2 linked regions of the Homo sapiens genome follow. The protein of the gene in region 2 purifies or fractionates together with the protein of the main gene of each other region. This does not show direct contact. Each region holds a gene or a part of one and is shown on either strand. Other genes may lie near its edges.

What was found.
Region 1: the proteins of SGSM3 (region 2) and LEMD2 purify together in Homo sapiens (affinity purification with mass spectrometry; 2 studies listed by BioGRID and IntAct, with this or other methods). This does not show direct contact.

What each region holds. Positions count from the first base shown.
Region 1 is NC_000006.12:33,786,131-33,795,982, forward strand, and holds the start of LEMD2 (LEM domain-containing protein 2), read right to left. Parts: upstream 3,001-9,852; 5' UTR 2,987-3,000; coding exon 2,251-2,986; intron 813-2,250; exon of another isoform or gene 645-812; coding exon 604-644; intron 1-603. Other genes in the region: MLN (promotilin isoform 1 preproprotein), read right to left, coding at 8,695-8,705, 9,373-9,475. UniProt on the Homo sapiens protein: Nuclear lamina-associated inner nuclear membrane protein that is involved in nuclear structure organization, maintenance of nuclear envelope (NE) integrity and NE reformation after mitosis.
Region 2 is NC_000022.11:40,373,594-40,380,593, reverse strand, and holds part of SGSM3 (small G protein signaling modulator 3), read right to left. Parts: intron 1-7,000. UniProt on the Homo sapiens protein: May play a cooperative role in NF2-mediated growth suppression of cells.

The sequences.
Region 1 (9,852 bases), on a different chromosome or scaffold from region 2:
CCAGACTGTCACCAGAAGCAGCATCCCAGCTCCTTGATAATGCTGCTTTCATGATTCATAAATGGATGGGGCTGCTCGCCATATTAGAGCTTCATAAAACAAATCTAAATGTAGACTAAGAGGGCTAATTCCACTTAAGATGTGTTCCAAACAAACTCCCTATGTTTCAAATCAGAACAGCATTTTCAGAGCCACAGCTGCACCACTGGAGACAGAGAATGTGGAATTGAGAACTTGGCCTCCTGATGCTTAGAAACGCCGGCCCTTCCTCCCAGTGCCAGGGAGCTTGAGGGTCCTTCAACAACAACCTACTGCATCCCCCTAGATTGACTCAGGCAGATCAAAGTCCCCGATGCTACATTTGATGGGAAAGTGTCCATAACAAGCCCAGGGTTGGATTTTGGGAGGTCAATTCTATTTCAAGTATTCCTTCACTGCCACAATTGAGCCTGACAAGAACATCACAGAACACAATGTGACTCTGGTACATTACAGGAAGCACTCCCTGAAAATGATCCTATTCTTTTTCTGGGGAAGTTTACCTCCTGATGGAGGCTAATATCCTCAGGAAGAATAATAAAAACCAGAGAAACTCAAACTCACCTCATCTGTTTTTCTCTCACAGTCCACTGGCAATAACTTCACTGAGACCAAGAAAAGAAACACAGAGGAAATTAAGTGTGGGTTGAGAAAGGAATACAAAAAGAGACTACTCACAACATTTGGAGGGAGTAAAGCATTACCAAGCCAAGGGTGGGGATTAGAAAGATGTCATCTAAGGAAGGCACTTTTAAAATGCAGACAGCAAAATGTAAGGGTATCCAAATCCTGGATTAGGAATTACGATAGCTGGGTCCTTGTCCCAGCTGAAAATGATTAGCTCAAGTTTCTTGGGCAACTCAACCACTCTGAACCTCTGTCTCCTCGTCTGTAAAACGGGATCAAATGGGCCTTCCCTGCTTAACTCAGGGAGTTAGGCCCAAACAAAACAAAATATAGGAGTTTTGTAAACAATGATATGTTAAACAGAGATTAACACCGTAATGGGAGGGGAAGTCCAGGTAAATACCAGCATACATTCTAGCGCTGTTGTCTTAAAGCATCTCAGCAGTGAGTACCAGTGTGATACTGTTTGACATCACCAGTGTAGTTATAGTACCATGACACTCCCAGGTCTCCTTAATTTCTCTAGCAGGTCGACAAACTATTCACATAGTTGATAAATGCTCTCATAGTGGGGAAATCATTTGGGTGTTTGCACACGAGTCTGTTAATACCCTTGCCCACAGACTTGTACACTCCCAAACATCCATCTGCCACACCAGCTAAGACATACTTTAGCTTTTTCCTGTATTTTGGCAGTTCCTGCTAGGCATGAAAGGATGTGGCCTTGGCTGGAAGCTGGGAACAGTATTAGTCACATTCGTGCTTTGTAAAGAGTATTAAAAGTTGGTGAACTACAGTGGCCCTTTATACCTAAATGTATAATGAAATGATCTCTATGTTTCCTTTCAGAAAACACACAATCCTCAGCTATTCCGGATACATACTGTATCCTGCAGACCTCTCATTGGCATATCTAACCATGTAACTTAAATGTGGCCAGAAGGATGGCTGTGAGCATCCTTGAGTCGTAGTCTCTCTCTTAACACACTCCATGAGGGTGCTACAAGCAATGATAAGGGCCTCCAGTTGCGATCAGTTTAACCTGTCTGGCAAGCAAGGCTGGTAGATTCTCCTGTTGACAAAGCGGCGGCCCTGTGATTCAAAGAAGTGGAGAGTGGACTTTTTGGTGCTACAAAGGTGGGACCCCCAACCAGATCCTATCTGTGGGCCACTGAAATCTGGAGTGCCTTCAAACAGGCACTAAATGTGTAAGCCAGAGGTCAAAAGGGAAGAACCCAAACGGATGGGGTGAATCTGTTAGAGGGGGGTGTGGCTTCCTCTCCAGGGAGAAAACCAGAGGTTGGAGGAGCAGTGACTACAGCTTGTGATTGAAAGGGAGACGTTAGAAGGGAGGGCTGGGGCAGAAAAGGAGAACAGGAGAAAGTGAAGGCAGAAATTATTGCAGATGCAGGAGCCTTGGCCCTCTCTTCCCACAGCTGGAAGAAGGCAGGCCTGGAAATGAGAAGACAGTCAGAGGCAGCTGACAAGGCCGGAAGTGCGCGGCCTGGCGCCGACAGGAACGGGGGGTCCTCCGGCGGACACACGCGCGCCCAGGGCCCTCCCCTGCGCCGGCCCAGGACGTACTGTTGTCCTCCGCCTCCTGCGGCGCTGAGGGCTTGCCCATCTTCACCCAAAGGATGCCCAGGAAGACGAGCAGTAGCCCTAGGCTGGCCCAGAGCAGAAGCCGAGAGAGCCAGCGCTCCAGCCGGCGCCCCACCTCAGGCCGGGCCCTCGCCGCGCCAGCAGGGCCCGCTCGAGTCGCCCGCAGGCCCGGGCGCGGGTCGGGACCGAGGAGGGAGGAAGGCAGCCGCGCCGGGGCGGGAGACGCTGCCCACCAGCGGCGGGCCGCGAGACCCGGGCCCTGCGTGGCCCTGTCGGGCGTCCGGGCGTCCTCGTCCTCCTCGGAGCTGCCCCGGACCGAGGCGCGGCGCCTGAGTTGCGCCGGGCGGGCAGGATAGGCGAGGCCGCGGCTCCCTACCCAGGAAGCCGCGGAGGGCCGGATATCACCGTAGGCCCCAGGGGTCGCGTAGGCCGAGCCCGAGGCCGGCTGGGAGAGCCAGGGCTCCGCCCGCGGAGAGGCCGCGGCGGGCCGGGCGCGCAGCGGCGCATCCTCGCGTAACCGGGCCTCTTCCCGTAACCGCTCCTCGCCCCGCGGCCGGGCCTCCTCCCGCAGCCGCTCCTCGTCGCGCAGCCGGGCCTCGCCCCGCAGGCGGCGCAGCTTGTTGCGGTAGACATCCCGGGTGGTGTCGGTGATGGGTCCTGGCTGGAAGCCCAGGGCCTGCAGCTCCCGCCGCAGTTCCAGGTCCGACAGGCCGGCCATGGCCAGGACGCCGCCCCCCGCCCGCCCCTGGCGCGCACCGCACCCGGAACTGCTCCCTCCCGCAGGCGCGGCGGAGCGGGCGGGGCCACGCGCCATGATGGGAAGGTCGGTCGCCATGTTGGGAAGGTCTGCACTTGGCCTTTGGTCGGCCATGATGAGGCGGTCTGACGTGGCTCTTAGAGCCGCCATGGTGGGAAGGTCCAAGGGGGATTAAATTTTTTGTTTTGTTTTGTTTTGTTTTGTTTTTCTCTCTCTCTCCGCTCTCCCACTTCCCTTTGTTTGTTAGATCAAGCGGTATTAATCTCTGAGTCCTCCAACCCTAGCTCTGCCTCTGGCAGGTGGTAAGCGTTCAGTAAAGTCAGCGTTGATTTAATAGATGAATTGCTTAATGGTGAACGAAGCCACTGCCACGAATGGAGAGACAGGATGATTTGCCTCTCTGGGCTTGGGGACTGATGTGTGATCCGGTTTTATTTGGGTCTTAGAGTACACTCCAGGCATGCTCCAAGACCCTGTCCCGACTTCGGGCTTGTTAACTGGGCGACACTGAGCACCAAGTAGGTGCGATCCCTGCCTTAGGACAGACACTGGCCCCCAAGGAGCGCCAGCCTGGAGGAGACGCAGCATCCATGGTGGAGGCAGAGGAGCAAAATGCCCTTGGGTTCGAATGGGCAGTTGAGGCTTCTCTGCGGAGGGCCTGTGTCTGCGTAATGGGATTTTTACAAGGAGACATGGGAGAGAGAAGACTCCAGAGATACACGGTCTTGCAGCCTCACTGGTGGTTTAGGTTGTGGGCTTTGGAGCCAGACAGTTCGATTTCAAATCCCTACTCACAACTATTAGATGTGTGATCATATTCAATTAACATTGTTAGCCTATTTGCCAGTAAACCTCAATAGAGTTGCTGTGAGGATTAGAAGAGGTAGTTTGGCTAAGGTGCTTGGGACAGTGCCTGGCACACGTTCATGCGTGTTTATACTTAACCCACATCTTTGCAGTGTCAGTGCTGTGTAGAGCCTCCCACAGGGCAGGTGATTTGGTTACATGAAGGCTCTTAGCAGGAAACCCCTAAGGGAAGCAAGGGAATGTGGCAACTGGAAATAGAACCAGTTTATAATCTTCCTTCCACATCCCTCAACTCCCATTCCCAAACATTTATTGCCGGCCCAATGGGTTCCATCCATTTCTACCCCTGCCATTCCATTCTCCCCTTCCCCCAGGCCCCTCCTCCCTGGAACTGCCCCGTATCTGTCCCAACAGCCCCCTTGCCCATTCCCCACTTTATTCCCTCCCCTCCCTGACACCCTGGGCAATGCTATGCTCCTCTGTCTGGGTTTTGCATTCCTGCCACTTGCTCCACCTCAGGGGTATTCAACACTGGCCACAATTGCTGGGAAAATGACAGCCTCGGCTTGGTCAGCTTCCACTGTTAGCCTCCCCATCTCCCCTGACTTAGCTGCTCCCATGTGGTGTGATTTCTCTCACCAAGTGTTGTTTTCCTTTTCCCTGCATGTGTTTGCACAGAATGCCATGAATTTGATATAGTGATTGCCTAACACATATACCACATAATAGTATTTTATTTCTTTCTGAAGCACTGTTTGCATGACAAATGAGTTGGTAACATTTGTGCAACTCCTTGCAGCTGTGCGGTTCAATATATAAAGAATGAGCCTTTCGGCATCAGTACTGGCCCCATGTATTCTAAGAGGGCTTGAAACTAATGCTTAAACAAAGTTATCGTTACAGCATTTCACAGAGTTATGGTCTATTTTATAACAATGGATCTCAGGGCGATTTAAAAATATGGACTGAACTGGAGCCACCCCCAGTGGTGGCACGCAATGTGGGCTTTGTCAGCTTCCTTGTGTTTGGGGACACTGCTGCCGCTCCACACACGTAGGGTCAAGTGGCCCACAGCCCCTCCCCCAGAACCCTGTTGTCTTCCCTGTGGTGTAGAACCCACTGTGCTTGGAGTTGTGGCCTTTGGCCACCCATGGTCAGCCCTTTTACCTCCATTGTGGCTTCTGGCTGTGGATGGCCTTGTCTTGCAGGATCTTACAGGCAGGCCTTTGGATGTGCACCAAGGGGCACCCAGTGACCACTTAACTGCAAATTTGCTGATCAATGCTCCCCTTCCCCACCCCCTCTGAGAAGGAACCTCACAAGTTAGTCAGGCGTTCCTCCCAGTTTTTGGGCCTTTCCATTTCATCCTGAATTCCCAGCTCCAGTCACGTTCCTGCCCAGATTTATAGCCCCTCTTTGGTTTAGTGAAGTTGGCGTGTTGCTTTTTGCTTTCCTCCACACAACCATCCACATGCTGCCCTCCACTTGGAAGGGCTCGACCTCAGCTCTTCTTTGCCACTGCTGCCCCTTCGGGAGCTACCCACGAAACCTGCCAGGGCTTCTGGCAGCCAGCCTTTCTGTGCCTTCAGCCTGGCTCTCCTGCTGGGCCTGTCCATGGCAGGAAGGCTTATTGTAAAGAAAAGGGCAATATTGCAAAGTCAGAGGCTGCTCTGCATGCCCTCCTTTCTCATCACTTTGCTGTGGGTTTTTTTTTTAAGGTGAGCAGCAGCTTAGGCTGTGGTCAGTCTTCCTGATGTATTAAAGGCAGAAGAGGAAAAACAAGCTCCAATATCTAAATCTACTTAGTAACCACATCCACACATTTATCAGAGGTGAAGGGCTGCTCTGAGCACGCTCTGGATTCCCGGGGGGCTGCCATACTCCCTTCCGTCCCGTTGACCTCTCTCTGTCTTGGCAGAGCCTTATAATAATCACAGCCATAAATCTTTTAGTGGGTTCCATTCTCTTCGTCCTCCTGCAAAAAGCCCTGCACACATTTATCAGGTCCTCAAAGATACTCAGGGACCACGGAATCGTCCTTGATCCACCTCATGGAGGGCCTCACGTATTGCCTCAGCTATTCAGGGCTTCCTTCAAACTACATTATAGGTGGCATTACAGTGGGGGCAGGGCACCGGGAGATTGTGGTTGAAAAGTGGGGGCCATGTGGGGCTCATATTTTGACTGGAATGACCCAGGAACACCCAGCTTCTCACTGCTCCATCTCAGTGCCTTATGGAAGAGGAGGACACTCTTTTCCTCTCTCTAGGTCTGAGGGTGCATCAGCTAAGGGGGAAAATGGAGTCACAGAGAAATGCCAGAATGGTATTTCATAATCTGTTGAAAATTAAACAAATCTCTCACTCTTTTGACTGCTCTCACACTTTGATATCCATGAGTAAGAGTTCCTTCAAAGGCATGGAATATATTACCGAATGTCAATAACAAATTGTGTATGAAGAAAAATGTAATGCTTTGAGAATATTTTCTTTTGGGCTTTGTCCATGATTAGATTACACTAAATTACAGCATACAGATATCAGGCAATTACTCTTTGCTTTTAACTATTCAATTTCATGGCAAATCCACATAGCGCAGTAATGCTAAAATCACACCGATGTGGTTACCAAGAAAATACCTCATCATCTCCATTTTGTGAAGCTAGGTTCAAGTTGCACTGTAATGACCTGTAGTCCTGTTAAGTGTAAAGTACATTCCAGATGAACATGGGGTAATCCGTACCTCTCTGTAATTGCCAGATATCTGGAGAGATTCTTGCAGATGTTGCTGGATAAGCCTGGGTGAGATGTGAAGAGGAATGGCATCTTTGCTCTCCTGGTTACTCTGGCTACCCTCCCTGTCTCTGATCCTGGTTGGTCTCTGGTCCTACTCATTCTATTGCTTTAACCAGGAGCATGTCTCCTTTTCTTCTGTTTTGTGAAAACATAGTCATTTTCTCTTCACTCAGCTCACAGAATCCTCCCCAACCTCCTCCCAATTTTAATTTCTTCCAAAGCTGTGGATATCCCATAAGCAATCAAGTCGGCTGTCCTGGAAACTGGAGGAGCTTGTTGGTGAAAAAAGAATTATTTGAGCCAATTGTGAGAAATCGAACAGTGGCAGGAGGAGGAAAACGAGAGAAGAAAGGAGCCGACACATCTAAACAAGCAGCCAGGGCACTGTGCATACAGATGTAGGTGGTAGCTGGGTCCCTGTTGCGGCTCATTACTGAGAAGCACATCAGAGGCCGCGGGGTGAGGGTTGGGGCTGCCGGGCGGCAATGCTGAGCTTTGAACGGGGCTTTTCTGCAGAATGGACAGCACCCTCTCCCTTCCCCAGTGCTGTAGTTGCTGAACCCATTCCCACCTAAACAGTGCAGACCTCCTGGGCAGAGTCTCCTGTGGGCCCCATGTCCCTCCATGGTGGGTGTCTATTTCAGTGAGAGGCTCTTCAACACCCAGAATCTCAGGGAAAATTCCCCAGCCAGTGCTGGGCTCCCCCCCAACCCAGAAATGGGCACCCCCTCTGGTGATAGGGGAAGGCGGTCTCCCTACAGAGGCAGATTCCAGCAGAGGGTGAGGGAAGGACACAAAATGCGTTTTCCACGGGGAAAGGGACCACCGTGAGCATCTCGTTTCTCTGCTTCTTGGAGTGTGTTACAGAAAATGGGGTGAACTGGCGTGGTGGAGCTCGGAAGGGCAAGGAGGAGCCTTGGATCCAGATCTTCCCAGCAGCAGGCTTTATAGATTTCTGTGTCTCCCCCGCTGCCCCCCGCATGCCCTTCTGCTGCAGCCCTCTCTCTCTATTACCGGGCATCTTGGCAGCATTTCCCGGGAACCTGCACCTGCTCTGGGGCTCATCGGTATATGTGCTGGAAATGCGTGTGAATGTTCAGCGTGGCGGGGGTGGGAGCCCATGGATGGTTTGAGTGTTTCTCAGGAGAATTCAGAGTACCTCAAATGAGGGTGCCTTGTTCAGCAGTGGAGTTCTTGTTCTGGTAACTACTTTCTGTGGCTAAGCCTGGGTGGAAATGCAGAATGGACACTGTATCTAATTGCTGGTAACCTATGGATGGAGGGAGCTGCAGTTCCAGTGTGGCCCCAGTTTATAAATACATGAACATTCATTAATGTAAAATTAAATTGGAATGAAATTTCCCATCCAGTTTTGTTTAGAAGGCAGAAATAAGTGGGTTGGCTGTGTAATTTTGCTGCGGATGCTGGAGTTGGTAGTCACAAGGTGCTAATAGTAATTTGCTCTTTGCTTGTGCCTCCATCCCAGATCTCGAGGCAGATATTACCACCTTGGTTTTGCACAGGCTCATTGAGGTTAAAGGGCTGGTTGGAAGTTACTTGGCAAGGGGTTGAGTGCGGAGGCCCTAAAATTCTCTGGCCCGTTAGACCTTGAGCTAGTCAGTAAACTAGAAATGGACCGAGACCCGGGAGACCTGAATTCCAGTCCTCACTCTGTCACTGACTCAGTGTGTGGGCAAAAAATGATCAGTTTCCTCACCTATAATGGAAGGGCCAGTGGTACTCTTCCACTTATTTGGATCTGAGTTAATATTTGAACTTAGACCTCACAAAAGGCACACAATGCTAATGTAAGCATCATTTATGGCCAACTTTCTCTGAGCTTTACTTTCCCCCCCTTTTTCTTGCGACCTGAGTTTGCCCTTTGGGAATTAAAATATTAAATAAGAGTCATTTCTGTATATTTCATGCTTTATTTGCTGGAGGGGAATTTGCTTTGGAAAGGGTGTTTTCCTTCCAAGCCCAGCTGGCAGGCTCTGTAAATTCCCAGGGCCTCACTTGGGCAGGAGGGGCCTCCCAAATCTGTCCACCTTCTCCCCAGCGTGGCCATCACTTGGCTGCTGGAGAAAAGCAGAGGTTTGCGCTCAGTACCATCATCAGGTCTGCTTATGAAACTGCCCTCTAAAACTTGCCTGCAGGTCGGAGGGAGGAGGGGGCACAAGGGCAGGCTGGGCGGGAAGGTGGGAAGTTTTGCAAGGAGCCTGCAAGCTGTCTGTAGCCTGGGGCAAGTCATTTAACCTCCCAGTTTCTCCATCACTAACAGCACTTCCTCGAGTCTCTCCTCTCCTCCTGGGGACTATGAGAAGTAATTAGTGGCTGTTTGTCAGAGGAGATGTAGCTTTGCTCAGGTAACTCGGGCAGACCTTGAACTGGGCAAGGCCAAATGGGGCTCAGGACTTTAATCTGCAGAATGAATGGGGGAAGGGAAAGCCTCACCAAGGTTCCCTTCGGAGCAGCCACCCTGTGGTGATGTTGTGGAAGGGAATGAAAATATCTGGAGCAGGGGAGTGGGGTGGGTAGCTGGGAACCCAGCCTGAGACCCGCCTCCCTGGAGAACTGCTGCAGCCACCAGCAGGTATCACAGCATAGCCCAGGGAGAAGACGGCTCCACATTCTCAAGTGCAAAGCAGCCAAACAAATTGCCACCCTGAAACCCTGCCTCTGGAGTATTAACGCCAGGGTGGGCGGAGGCCGGCCAAGCCACAGAGATGCCCGCCCTCCCCGTACCATGCTGGGGAAGCATCTCACTCAGCAGCCCTTCCAGGGTGGCCGGGTACTTTTCCAGCTGTCTGGAGTTCATCCTCATTCCAATTTCCAGAGGAGCAGTCAGCTGTGAAATAAGGCAGCGTTAACAACGAGGGAGAGGTGGAGAGGGCCCTTAACCCCTGGGTGCACTACAGGTGGCAGGAGGGACCCTTGGGAGCCACACCACCCTGCAGACCCCACTAGAGCCTCTAGGGATGGCTGGGAATTCTGCCACCTTCCCCTAATTCTAACCAGAGGGCTGGATCCTGAAGGTCACTGAGTCCTGCTGAGGGGATCAATACACCTTCCATAACGGGGAAGCTGGGACAGGAGGGGTGGGGTCAGCAGGAACCCCAGCAGGCTTTTCTCATGGGGAGGGAATTCACTCCCACCTCAACAATTATAGCCAACATTGTGGAGTCTTACCCTTATTCTAAGCTTTTTTTTTTTTTTTTTTGAGAC
Region 2 (7,000 bases):
GGAGTTCGAGACCAGCCTGGCCAACATGGTGAAAACCCATCTCTATTAGAAATACAAGAATTAGCCAGGTGTCATGGGGCATGCCTCTAATCCCAACTACTCGGGATGCTGAGGTGGGAGAATTGCTTGAACCCGGGAGGCGGAGGTTACAGTGAGCTGAGATAGTGCCACTGCACTCCAGCCTGGGTGACAGAGTGAGACCCTGTCTCAGGAAAAAAAAAAAAAAAAATTATAGATATTCATGGTTAAAAAAAGCTAGAAAATGTACAATTAATAGATGAATAAAGAAATAAATGCCAGAATGTTTACTGATTATTCCTGGGTGGTGCAGATAAGTGTAATTACTTAATCACACACACATACAAATACACACACAGCATTAAAAAAATGTTAATAGTCATACAAGAACATTTCCAGCACTGTATAAAGTTCTCTTGGACAGCACTTCACTACTTTATACTGCCTCTCAGGACTAGGTTCTGTAGTAGGTACATTTAGTCTTTGTCCATGGGATTATAATTTCATTGACCAGACAGACACATAAAATGGCAAACAACCCAAGGCCAGTTAATAAGAGAAACCAGGCCGAGCACGATGGCTCACACCTATAATCCCAGCACTTTAGGAGGCCGAGGAGGGTGGATCACTTGAGCCCAGGAGTTTGAGACCACCCTGGGCAACATGACGAAACCCAATCTCTACAAAAAAATACAAAAATTAGCTGGGCGTGGTGGTGCAAATCTGTAGTCCCAGATTACTCAGGAAGCTGAGGTGGGAGGATTGCTTGGGCCTGGGAGGTGGAGGTTGCAGTGAGTGGAGATTGTGCCACTGCATTCCAGCCTGGGTGACAAAGTGAGACCCTGCCTTAATAATAAGAACAGAGACCACAAATACTACCAAAGTTCAAAGAAATAAAGAGATAACTACAGGTTGATATGGAAAAGCCTTCATGAAGGAGGAAGATATTTACTTAATAACTCACTGAGGGATATGCATATGCTGCAGCAGGCACTGCACGGGCCTGAACTGAGCAAGACTTAGGGAGACCACAGTTTAACAGAGATAAACAATCCAACAGTCAGTCACCCTCCACCCCACATCTTTCATTAACTAGCTGTGTTACACAGGGACTCTGGTCCTTATGAAGAGGTGATCTCAGACTTCTAGTCTTGAAATGCTGTGATCCAAAGAGAAGAGGAAAAGAGAAAGGCACCAGCGAGTAAGGGAAGCAACAGAGAAAAGGTACGAAGTGGACAGCATGAGCTAGATATTCTCCTAGAACACAAAGCAGACCCAATGGTGACTTTGTGTTGAGGAAATACTCATTCAATCAACATATGTTTATTGAGTGCCTATTATGTACCAGGCACTGTTTTAAGTGTCGGGAACACAGAAGTGCTCAAAATAGATAGAAATCCCTTCTTTGAAAGTCCCAGCATTCTAGAGGGGAAAGAAGTAACTTAAAAAATTAATAAGAGACCACACTGTATGTCAGATGAATAGTGCTACAGAGTAAAATGAGGCAGGAAGAACCATAGGCACTTTCAGGAGCTGCTATTCTAAATTAGGTAGTCAGGGAAGGCTCAGTAAGAAAAATCTGAGCAAACACCTGAAGAAGGTGAGGAGCTGATGGAAGCAGAGGTCCGAAACAAAGAGCAGCACATAGGTGGTGAAGCGGGAATATAAGAGACTAGGTTGGAAAAGTGAGGAAAAGCAGGTAAATCTTCTAAAAAGAACTCTAGGTCTCGGAGTCTGCAGATTTAGATTTCAATCAGAGAATCACGATCTCAGAATTGGAGAGAACTTTACAGTTCATTCAGTACAACAACCCATTAGATTATTATTATTGGTTTTGTTCTGTTTTTTTTTGAGACAGAGTCTCGCTCTGTCACCCAGGCTGGAGTGCAGTGTGTGATCTCAGCTCACTGCAACCTCCGCCTCCTGGGTTCCTCTTCTGCCTCAGCTTCCTGGTAGATGGGATTACAGGCATGCGCCACCACACCCGGCTAATTTTTTGTATTTTTGGTAGTAGAGATGGGGTTTCGCCATGTAGGCCAGGTTGGTCTCGAACTCCCACCTTCAAGTGATCTGCCCGCCTTAGCCTCCCAAAGTGCTAGGATGACAGGCATCAGCCACCGTGCCCGGCCATATTATTATTTTTAATATACACAGGGTCTTGCTGTGTCACCCAGGCTGGAATGCAGTGGCACTATTCCAGCTCACTATAACCTCAAACTGTTGGGCTCAATCCTCTCACCCCAGTCTCCCAAGTAGCTAGGACTACAGGCACACACCATCATGCCTGGCTAATTTTTCTTATTTTTTTGTAGAGATGCTGGTCTTGCTATGTTGCCCAGGGTAGTCTCAAACTCTTGGCCTCAAGCGATCATCCTGCCTCAGCCTCCCAAAGCAGTGGAATTACAGGCATGAGCCACCACACCCAGTCCCCATTAGATTACTAAACCCATATTACTCCTCCCAGGTGACCATCTTGTCTTGGCTTGAACAATTTAGTGGATGTATCTATTTCCACATACCAAGACAGTCTGTCACCTGTGGATAGCCCTGCCTTAGGCTTTAACGTGGGCAGAAATCTGTTTGCTAGTAATATCTACTCTTTGGTCTTTTTAGGGGTACTTTGTATTCTACATACTTCAGACATTTGAAGATACCCACATCTTCTCCAAGATTTCTCTCCTCTTCAGGTTAAAGTTAGCTGATTATTTTAACTTTTTTTTTTTTTTTTTTGAGACAGGGTCTTGCTCTGTCACCCAGGCTGGCGTACAGTGGCACGATCACAGCTCACTGCAGCCTTGACCTCCCAAGCTCAAGTAATCTTCCCACCTCAGCCTCCCAAGTAGCTGGGACTACAGGCACATGCCACCATGCCCAGCTATTTATAATTTTTAAAGTTTTTTTTTGTAGAGACAGGTTCCCATTATGTTGCCCAGGCGGGTCTCAAACTCCTTAGCCCAATGGATCCGCCTGCCTTGGCCTCCCAGAGGGCTGGGATTACAGGCGTGAGCCACGACACCAGGCCTATTTTAACTCTTACATGACATGACCTCATGCCATGTAAAAGTTAAAGGTGTCTCAGCTGCAAGCCACCAAAACTGACTTTGGGTAACTTAAGTTATGAAAGACAGGAATGTATTGGAAGGATATGTAGTAGGACATAAAACCAAGGAAAAGCTGAAGACTCAGCTCGTTGAAAACAACAGCAGCTCTAGTGCCCAGATATTAGGAATTAGCCTGTGGTTGTGATGAAGGAGCTGCAACTGTTTATTGAACTTTTGTTACTGTGTCATTCAACCTAAGATTCAAATTAAAGGAGGAAAGCATCTATTTGCCTAACATCTGTTGGCCTGACCTGGGCCATGTGCCTACCACCTAGTTGGTCAGGGATGAACTGTTCTCCAAAGCAAAATTGAGCTGTTATCCCCAGAAGAACCTGGATTGGATGCTGGACAGGCCAAAACAACTTATGTCTACTAAATTTTCTCAAAATGTGATGCTTCAAATTCCACATGATCTAGATATGGAGGAGCAACACCAGGGCACTGTCTGCACACATGCTGCATGACTGGGAAAGTGACCAAATGTGTGCCTGTTTCCTGCCGGACAGTGATGGTCACAAGCATATTTGGTTATTCCTATGACAATCAAAGAAAATGTGTGCAAAATGCTTTGTAAACTCGAAGCTAACTGTAGTACTTAATACCGTAAATGCTTGTCACAGCCATTTTATATAGATTTTATTTAATCTTCAAAACTACTCTATTTCTTGATTATATGCTAAATTAAAAAAAACAAAAAACTATGAAGGTGGAGATTATGAGCATAAACTCTAGAGTCAGACTAAGTTCTAATCCTGACTCCACCAATCTTTAGCAAATTACTGTTTCTGTCACTGTTGTCTCACCTGTAAATGGGCATAATACTAGCAATACATAGGGTTGATGTGAGGATTGTGAGTTAATACAAATAAAATTCTTAGAACTGTGACTGGTATATATAGCAAACACCTAATACATATTAGCTATTACTATGAGTAGCACTAATTATTCCATTTTTGCAGGTGAGAGAAATGAGGCATGACAGATAACTTGTAAGTTCTCGAAGTTTACAATGGTAAAGCCAGGCCGGGTGCAGTGGCATGCACCTGTAATCACAGCAACTCATGAGATTAAAGCAGGAGGACCTCTTGAGCCCAGGAGTTTGAGGTTTCAGTGAGCTATGATCATGCCACTGCACTCCAACCTGGGCAACAGAGCAAAACCCTGTCAATCAATCAAGCAAGCAGACAAGCAAGGAAGCAAGCAGCAGAGCCGTAAGTTGAACTTCATTGTTGGTGCTCCGACTACCGTACTGTTTCCAAAAGACAAAAAAAAAAAAAAAAAAAAAAAAAAAAAAAAGTGGTAATTTGACTTTAACCCTATCCTCAAGTCACATAATTAAGGATATTTACAAACGAAACTCAAACACAAGAGAGGGAAAAGGGAAATGATCTGTTCTTTCATATCTTGTTTTTTTTTTTCCAGTTTTTTGAGACAGGGTCTCCCTTTGTCACCCAGGCTGGAGTGTGTGGTGTGTGGTGTGATCACAGCTCACTACAGCTTCAATCTCCTGAGCTCAAGTGATCCTCTTGCCTCAGCATCCTGAGTAGGTGGGACCACAAGCACACGCCACCATATCTGGTTAATTTTTAGAAATTTTTTTGTAGAGGCAGGGTCTCACCATGTTGCCCAGGCTGGTCTTGACCTCCTGGGCTTCAGTGATCCTTCCACCTCAGCCTCCCAAAGTGCTGGGATTACAGACATAAGCCCAGCCTGTTTCATGTCTTTAGAGTGTTAGCTTGCAGGCTAATTAGATATCTAGAGAAGGGTGAGAAAAGTCACATAATTTTGTTGTAGTGAAAAAAAAAAAATTCTCTGTCTTAATTGGAAATTATACCCTTTCCAAGATAAGACTTTTGACACTGAATTGGGGGTGTCAATCTCTTTTTTTTTTTTTGAGACAGAGTTTCACTCTTGTCACCCAGGCTGGAGTGCAATGACATGATCTCGGCTCACTGCAACCTATGCCTCCCAGGTTCAAGTGATTCTCCTGCCTCAGCCTCCCGAATAGCTGGGATTACAGGCGCCTGCCACCACACCCAGCTAATTTTTGTATTTTTAGTAGAGGCAGGGTTTTACCATGTTGTCCAGGCTAGTCTCAAACTCCTGACCTTAGGTGATCCGCCTACCTCGGCCTCCCAAAGCACTGGGATTACAGGCGTGAGCCACCACAACCGGCCTATCAATCTAATTTCTGATATCAGTTACTCTTGTTGATAAAGCTGTTTAATTATTCCAAAGCAGTTAACCTCCCAAAACAATTTACATCATTAGTAGAGAGAAAAACAAATACAAAACATGTATCACACTTAGAAAAAGCAGAAATATGTTTATCACTGCAAAAGAGGCATATATTAGAAGAGACAGTTAATAGTTAACTGTGCCTACTGAAAAGAGGTGAATGTATCTCTCCTCATGTATAAATGGTGAGCATAAATTAGTAAGCCTAAATTTTCAAAAAGGGGAGGTGATTATATATGTAGCATTCAAACAATGGTGCTGTCAAAATCAGTTCATAAGCCACACTGAAAATCTAGCCTTGTTATTTCAGTCATATGCTACTACTGATAGTACTGGTACAATGTGTTTGTTTGAGGCAAGGTCTCATTCTCTTCCCCAGGCTGGAGTGCAGTGGTACAAACATGGCTGGCTGCAACTTCGACCTCCTGAGCTGAGCCCAAGCAATCCTCCTGCCTCAGCCTCCCGAGTAGCTGGGACCACAGGCGCACATCACCATGACTGGCAATTTTATGTTTTTGGTCGAGATGGCATTTCGCCATGTTGCCCAGACCAGTCTTGAACTCCTGGGCTCAAGCAATCCTCTACCTTGGCCTCCCAAAGTGCTGGGATTACAGGCGTGAGCCGCCGTACTGGGCCCCATTCAACAGATATTTATTGCTCACCTACCACTGTTCTAGGAGATGGGGGTGAGGTGGTGAACAACACAAAGCCCCTACTTTCATAGAGCTTACATTGCAGGCAAGTATTACAAAGAAGAAATTGTAGCTCAGTTACCAGATCTGTCAGACTCTAAAGCCTATACTGTATCTTTCAACCATGTCATCTCTCAGTGGATACAGCTTTTCCCTAAAAGTATATACCTAAGCACGCAGTCTTGACACTACAGTCTAGACCAATTTAAGCTTTCTCTCTGGTGGCAGTCCAGTGACATCTTCACAATAAAGTGTTCCTTCCCCAACTCTCAAACTATAAAAACCGCCCTATTGGCTGGGCACGGTGGCTCACACCTGTAATCCCAGCACTTTGGGAGGCCGAGGCAGGCGGATCACGAGGTCAGATCAAGACCATTCTGGCTAACACGGTGAAGCCCCGTCTCTACTAAAAAAAATACAAAAAATTAGCCGGGCATGGTGGCAGGCGCCTGTAGTCCCAGCTACTCAGGAGGCTGAGGCAGGAGAATGGCGTAAATAAACCCGGGAGGCAGAGCTTGCAGTGAGCCGAGATCACGCCACTGCACTCAAGCCTGGGCGACAGAGGGAGACTCCGTCTCAAAAATAAATAAATAAAATAAATAAAAATAAAAATAAATAAACCACCCTATCAGGCCAGGTGTGGTGGCTCACGCCTGTAATCCCAGCACTTTGGAAGGCCTAGGAGGGCGGATCACGAGGTCAAGAGATGGAGACCATCCTGGCCAACATGGTGAAACCTCGTCTCTACTAAAAATACAAAAATTAGCTGGGTGTGGTGGTGCACGCCTGCAGTCTCAGCTACTCGGGAGGCTGAGGCAGGAGAACTGCTTGAACTCGGGAGGCAGAGATTGCAGTGAGCCGAGATTGCCCCACTGCACTCTAGCCTGGTGACAGAGTGAGACTATGTCTCAAAAAAACAAAAACAAAAACAAAAAACACAACTGCCCTATC